Linked DNA regions of Homo sapiens. The protein of the gene in region 1 purifies or fractionates together with the protein of each later gene. This does not show direct contact. Each region holds a gene or a part of one and is shown in the gene's direction. Other genes may lie near its edges. The genes, in order: PARL and MARCHF8.

The links.
Region 2: the proteins of PARL (region 1) and MARCHF8 purify together in Homo sapiens (affinity purification with western blotting, with the first as the bait; one study listed by BioGRID). This does not show direct contact.

Annotation. Positions count from the first base shown.
Region 1 is NC_000003.12:183,843,270-183,847,092, reverse strand, and holds part of PARL (presenilin-associated rhomboid-like protein, mitochondrial isoform 1 precursor), read left to right. Parts: intron 1-2,766; coding exon 2,767-2,862; intron 2,863-3,823. UniProt on the Homo sapiens protein: Required for the control of apoptosis during postnatal growth. Essential for proteolytic processing of an antiapoptotic form of OPA1 which prevents the release of mitochondrial cytochrome c in response to intrinsic apoptotic signals.
Region 2 is NC_000010.11:45,483,256-45,487,078, reverse strand, and holds part of MARCHF8 (E3 ubiquitin-protein ligase MARCHF8), read left to right. Parts: intron 1-3,823. UniProt on the Homo sapiens protein: E3 ubiquitin-protein ligase that plays several important roles in innate immunity and adaptive immunity.

The DNA of each region.
Region 1 (3,823 bases):
CTCTCATGCTCATCCGCTTCTGGGGACCAGCATATGCTGTTTCCCAGCAAGGAAGCCGTTTTTATGTGGTGTCTGAAGTCCTAGAGTGACCAAGGTCAAAATAAATCCTCCTGGCTACCCATGTCTTGATGTATAGTAGAAAGAGCACTAGATTAGGAATTCTGGCTTGGCCACTGAATTTGGCCCTCTGACAACTTGTACCTTTTAGAGCCTGTTTTTCTCATCTATAACTGGCCTTCAGAATAGGGTTTACAAAGAAGAAAGTATGTGCATTTCACTTTTCTTATTTCTTTTAAATTTGTTAAGTGTGTCTTATGAATTTATAGTGGTTCACGTACATAATTTGTTAATAAGTATACATATATGGGATGTGTCTGTTACTAATGGATGGTGTTTACTAATGGGGTGCCCCATGAAAGCAGTTTGATGACCACTGGCTTATGAAGTAAGGGATTTTGGCTACAGTCTGTTTCAGTGCCAGTACTCATTATTTATCAGAAAAGCTTCTTGCGTTTGGATTGAAAACTTAGCAGTGTTAACTCTTTGTCTACTGTTAACCTCAATGTCTTTGGTTATCTTTCCCCCCGCTTTTTTTTTTTTTGAGACAGTTTCCCTCTTGTTGCCCAGGCTGGAGTGCAATGGCGTGATCTCGGCTCACCTCAACCTCCGCCTCCTGGGTTCAAGTGATTCTCCTGCCTCAGCCTCCTGAGTAACCGGGACTACAGGCATGCACCACCACGCCCAGCTAATTTTGTATTTTTAGTAGAGACGAGGTTTCTTCATGTTGGTCAGGCTGGTCTCGAACTCCCGACCTCAGGTGATCCGTCCGCCTCAGCCTCCCAAAGTACTGCTGGGATTACAGACGTGAGCCACCGCACCCGGCCTTTATCTTTCATTTTTTTTCATGTATTTTCCTTTATTTTAATCACTTTATCCAGAAACATATCCTCGTCTTGACAGTGCTGTGGTGCCTGTGGTTTCCAGAAGCTGGGTGTGCTGTGTGTCTGTGGTTTGAGGAAGTTGCCCATGGAACTGACAGAGGAAGCAGAGTAGTCGTTGCCATTTTTCAGCCTAGTAGGCAGGATCAGGGACCCCATCTTGCTCTCTTTGCCTTGAACCACAATTAGAATAAAACACCAAAGCCCTGACTGATCATGATCATAGCAATCCGATCTTTATGATCATGGCCAGACCATTCTCAGGTCGTCTTTACCCTAAGATATCAATCACTGGGTATGACAACCTAGACCTAAGGGTGCACTCTGGGTAGTAAAGATGATTAACTCTCCCAAAGGAATCTAAGGAATCCAGAGCAACACGAATCACTGCTCTCTTCCTATAGGGTAAACCTCCCAAGACTCCAGTCCCTGTGAGGAGGCTCTGCCCGCCTGCCCTTCCCAGGGTTCCAGGCTCCACATTGGGAGGTGTACACAGTGCTCTTCGCTCTTCATTGCCTTGTGTATGATCCCTTTTCCCATCTTTGCATAAATGCTGTCCCTCTCACCATCTTTAAAAGAGTTCTGGGTAATTATTTACCAAAGGTGGTATAATGCTGTCACAGTCCCTGCTAGTGAGACATCTGATACAACTGATGGAATCAGTTCAACAAAATGCAGTAAAATTTTATTTAATGTACTACGGAGAAAGAAAAAATGCTACCAGTTATAAGATGCATCCTGATTTCAGATATTAAAATGGAAAAAATGTCTTAAGATCTGTGAAAAATGTAGCTTCCTTTCCCACCTCTCAAGTGGGAGAGCAAAAACTGGACAGACTAGAAATGCCAGGGGCTAGCTGAGAACCTTACAGAATGAGCAACTGCGGAAGCCACAGGTAACACCGAGATGTAGATCAGCTGCCAGGGACAAGACAAAGAATGTTTTCTAAAGTAAATCCTCTTACCAGTATGTTATTGAAATCAGTCCTTATTGGCATCGAAGAAGGTGAAAGTGCTACTTGCCTGTTGCCTACAGAGACTGGAGGAATGACAAATGTTTATTTTAATTCAACAAGTAGAGGAATACCTGCTATGTGAAGGAGTTGTGGCAATTCATAAAATTAATATATTTTTTGAAGTTTGTAGTTTTCAATAATAATTTCTTATCTAAAATGTAACAAGTTAATTATATTATCGAATAAACCTCAATTTCGTAGTACTAACAACATCAACACTTACAGAAAAAGGAAAGTCACTCAACTCCCACATGTAAACAGACTTTAGAAGCAGTTGCAGAGGTTTTCTAAATTATCCCTGAATTCCTATCACATGACTATTTTTCTCAGACATGTTGACCTTCACCTACACAGATGACTCACATATGTTTCCATAAGCTGGCAGTAAGTTTAAGAAGCATACCATGCCCTGAGGAAAAAGAAGTAATGTTAGCTCTTCTACTCTTGGCCAAAGAACCTAATTCTGTATATTACTTCTGTCTTTGGTTTGGCTATTATAGACAATAAATTATTGATCTGATTATAATTGAGAAAAGTAAGCTCTTCTAAAGAAGTAAAATATGGATCTAGGGAAAGGAAGTTAGCTCCCAGAGCATTTACAATTTCCCAGGAATTCTGTGACTTTACCAACCCTAGGCAGTGCTGATACTTTAAAAGCATTCATTTCACTTGCTTTTTTTTGGCTCACCCCCTATCCCCCAGGTATACAGTACTCTTACATAATTGTGGAAGAATCTTACAAGGGGGTAATGTAGATCAGACTTTCCTGCTTTCATTTTTAACCTCCCTAAATTATAAATATTTATTTTGTAGGTATTATAGCTGCAAATGTCCTTGTATTCTGTTTATGGAGAGTACCTTCTCTGCAGCGGACAATGATCAGATATTTCACATCGAATCCAGCCTCAAGTAAGTCTAACTTGTGTGAATTTATTTTAAGGTAGAAATAATATGAAAGAAATATGCTTTAGTTAATGGAAGTGCTGTAAAAAAGACGAATTACCTATCAATAGCTACAAGCAAAATGCAGAGGATAGGCTGTAAGCTCCTTCACTGAGGACAGGGACCTCACCTCTCTTTTTCTTTTTCTTTGTTTTTTTTGAGACGGAGTCTTCCTCTGTTGCCCAGGCTGGAGTGCAGTGGTGCAGTCTTAGCTCACTACAACCTCCACCTCCCAGGTTCAAGTGATTCTCCTGCCTCAGCCTCCCTAGTAGCTAGGATTACAGGTGCCCGCCACCACACCCAGCTAGTTTTTGTATTTTTAATAGAGACAGGGTTTCACCGTGTTGGATAGGCTGTTCTTGAACACCTGACCTCAGGTGATCTGCCTGGCTCGGCTGGAGTGCAGTGGCGTGATCTCAGCTCACTGCAAGCTCCGCCTCCCGGGTTCATGCCATTCTCCTGCCTCAGCCTCCTGAGTAGCTGGGACTACAGGTGCCCGCCACCACGCCCCGCTAATTTTTTTGTATTTTTAGTAGAGACGGGGTTTCAACATGTTAGCCAGGATGGTCTCGATCTCCTGACCTCGTGATCCGCCCGCCTCAGCCTCCCAAAGTGCTGGGATTATAGGCGTGAGCCACTGCGCCCGGCCAATTTACTTTTTATTTTATTTTATTTTATTTTTTGAGACAGGGTCTTGCTCTGTTGCCCAGGCTAGAGTGCAGTGATACGATCTTGGCTCACTGCAACCTCTGCTTCTCAGGCTCAACTGATCCTCCCACCTCAGCCCCCAGGAGCTGGGACTACAGGTGCATGCCACCATGCCCAGCTAATTTTTTTTGTTTTTAGTGCAGATGAGGTCTTGCCATGTTGCCCAGACTGCTTATTTTTTTCTAATCAACTTTTGCCATAAGGACAAGTTGCTTTCATT
Region 2 (3,823 bases), on another chromosome or scaffold:
AGCAATTTGGGAGGCTGAAGCGGGCGGATCACCTGAGGTCAGGAGTTTGAGACCAGCCTGGCCAACATGATGAAACCCCATCTTTACTAAAATTCCAAAAAAATAGCCAGGCGTGGTGGTGCACACCTGCAGTCCCAGCTGCTTGGGAGGCTGAGGCAGGAGAATCGCTTGAACCTGGGAGGCGGAGGTTGCAGTGAGCTAAGATCACACCATTGCACTCCAGCTTAGGCAACAAGAGCAAAACTCCGTCTCAAAAAAAAAAAAAAAAAAAAAAGTAGGGTAATAATACAACCTTCAGGGTTGTTCCGAGTCTTGGGATTAACATTTGCATGGAACCATGGGGCAGCTCACCCATTACACTGAGCCAACAAACCTGACTCTTGTCAAAGTTCGTTGAATCCTGGTGACCTTAGGTTGATTGGGCCAGGACAGTTCATTTAATGGTAGCTTTATTATTTATTGCTGAACAATGGAGAACCATACATTATTTTTTCCTTCTTGCATACATTTTTTTTTAGACAGAGTCTCGCTCCGTAGCCCAGGCTGGAGTGCCGTGGTGCAATCTTGGCTCACTGCAACCTCCGCCTCCTGGATTTAAGCAATTCTCCTGCCTCAGCCTCCTGAGTAGCTGGGATTACAGGTGCGTGCCACCACGCCCAGCTAATTTTTGTATTTTTAGTAGAGACAGGGTTTCACTATGTTGATCAGGCTGGCCTCAAACTCCTGACCTCCTGATCCACCCGCCTTGGCCTCCCAAAGTGCTAGGATTACAGGCGTGAGCCACCGTGCCCGGCCCCTTCTTGAATACATTTTTACTGTGTGCTGTTTGCGACTGGACACTTAGTGTGTCCAGTGAGTTCCGGGATGCTTACTATGGTCATTGGAGAGTATCTGAGTGGAGTGAGCCTTTAGAACATTTGATTACTCACAGAACTTCCTGGTTAACCTGTCAACGTGAAATTCTGTTGCAAAGTGTACCCTTTTGTAACGAAGATAGTTAGCATGCTGTATAAGGTGGTTAGACATGAACCAGTTCAGTGGGACCAAGGAAGGGAGGGCAGGCCCCCTGTGGAAGATAACTGTTTTTGAGAAGACAGTTTTTTTATTGGAGTATTTATTAAATGAACCTGCTGTTTGAAGCCAGTTTTAGGCCGTGACATGTAAAATCGTATCTTCAGTATAGCAGACATACTCTTGAGATTAAAGGAGGCCACAATGTGGACATACTGTATGCTACCTGAAATCCCCGTTGTCTCTGTCAGGAGACTTTCTGCTGACTTTTAGACCCCAGCTGGGGTCAGCACATGAGCCAGTCACTGCAGTCTGCTTTATGCTTCTGCAGTTCACCTCTTGCTGGCGTAAATTTAGAGGTTGAAAAGAGGTAAAAAATAAACCTTTAATCATGCCTCCTAGTATTCCATCTAGATTTTATTACAAAGTGTCTCAGTGTGTATTGGAAGCATATTGACTTTAAAAACCAGGCTCCATTTTCAAAGAAGGAAGCAGGTAGGTTGGATGAGATGTTTATGAGGCTGCTAGGTCTGTGGTGGCTTGCCTCTCTTCAAAGTGGGCAGCTGGATTTGATCCCCTTAAGGAGTTAATAGAAGAAGCATATTGGGATATTTAAGCAATTACAATGGCAAAGTCTTCACCCAATACTTATTTTGTATTGATAGTACAATGTTAATGGATATCATTTGTTGAGCCTCTGTTACCAAGGGATTTCATGAAATTTGTCACCTCCAATTAACATCCTAAGGGGTCCAAAGTCACCTTTTCCTTTTATTTTTCAGGATCGCACTTATCACTGCCTGGGTTTTCATGAATTTTTTTCCATTGCACCTTCACCCCACATGTAACCTTCATGAGTGTAGAGCCATGCTTTGTTTACCCCTAAATCTGCAGAACCAGTGATGGGATGGAGCCCTGGAGGTTGTCAGTACATGCTGAGTCAATGTTTGCATGCTGTTCTGCTAGACACTTGATACCCAGCCCATTGGTTCATCCCTCTTCATCATCCCAGCCACTTCCCAGGCCCAGGCCTCCTAAACTCCTGCAGTAGCTTCTCAAGAATCTATCCCAAACCATCTAGCACCCAGTAGCCAGTAAGTAGAATTCCTAATGCTTCTCTTTTCAATTCTTCAGTGTTTCTGATTACACTACCTTGAGCTGTCACATCTAAGGTGACCTGGGCCTGGCCACTTGGAACCTGATCCTGTGCAATATCCCCTTGGTCATGATGATCTAGGTATGGTGTCTACCTTGATGATTTTCAAACAAGCCAAATTCCTATTTGCGCACCTTTTGTTCTGTCCGAGAGGCCTCTCCCAATCTTACCCCTTTTTTGCATGAATGGCTAAAATTCCTAACTCATTTCTCTTTCAGTTCTTAGCTTCTTTAGAGGCACTTACCCTTGACACCCTCCCCTTAGTCTAAATTTTATCACCCATTTGGGTTTTGTTACTCTTTCTTCATAGCACCTATCACAGTTTGTAATGATAGCAGTGTGTAGAAAATCTTATATTTTTAGAAGCAGCAGAATGTCCCCCCTTGGAAAAAAATCTGTTTAATTGACTGGGTGCTTGGAGAAGTTTGAGGCAGTTTGAGTCCCACAGGTGACATGCTTTATACAAAGACGGGCACTGGAATGCAGCCCCCATGAAATCGCCATGCATCTTGCCCAGACCTTCACCTCACCGCAGGGTCCTTGACCATGTGGGCCCACGAGCCATCCTGGAGGATGTTCCCCAGATGCCCCATCCACACTCAGTCCTCACCCTATGTACTTCCCTTGCTGCTGTTTGCTTAATCATTTTCTAAAGAACAAACTCAAAGTTTTATATCATTGTGTAGTATCTGAAATCACATTTGATTGGTTTTCTTTTTTTAGTTTATTTGTACATATTTATGGGGTACCTCTGATATTTTGTTACATGCATAGACTATGTAATGATCAAGTCAGGGTATTTGGGGTGTCCCTCACTGTGAATATTTATCATGTCTATGTGTCAGAAACAATTTAAACCTCTCTTCTAGTTATTTTGAAGTATATAATATATTGTTAACTGTAGTCACCCTACTCTGTTGTTATTGAACATTAGAACTTATTGTGACTATCTAACTGTATTTTTGTACCCATTAACCAATCTCTCTTTATCCCCCACTCCTGCCTCCATGCACACCCTTCCCAGCCTCTAGTACCTATAATTCTACTTTCTACCTCCATGAGATCAAATTTTTATAGCTCCCACATGTGAGTGAGAACATGTAATATTTGTCTTTCTGTGTCTGGCTAATGACCTCCATCCATGTTGCTGCAGATGACATGATTTCATTCTTTTTGTATGGCTGAATAGTATTTCATTGTGTATATGTGTCACGAATTCTTTACCTGTTTGTCCATTGATGTGGACACTTAGGCTGATTCCATATCTTTTGCGAACAGTGCTACAATAAACATGGGAGTACAGATATCTCTTTGATAATACTAATTTGTTTTCCTCTGGGGAAATACTCTGTAGTGAGATTGCTGGATTATATAGTAGTTCTATTTTTAGTTTTTTGAGGAATTCCCATACTATTTTTCATACTGGTTGTACTAATTTGCATTCCCACCAACAATACATAAGAGTTCCCTTTTCTCTGCATCCTCACCAACATCTGTTATTCCCTGATGATTAGGGATGCTGAGCAGTTTTTCATGCAGCTGTCGGTCATTTACATGTCTTTTTTTGAGAAATGTCTAGTCATGTCCTTTGCCCACTTTTTAATGGGATTGTTTGTGTTTTTAATGTTGTTTGAGTTTCTTACATATTCTGTATGT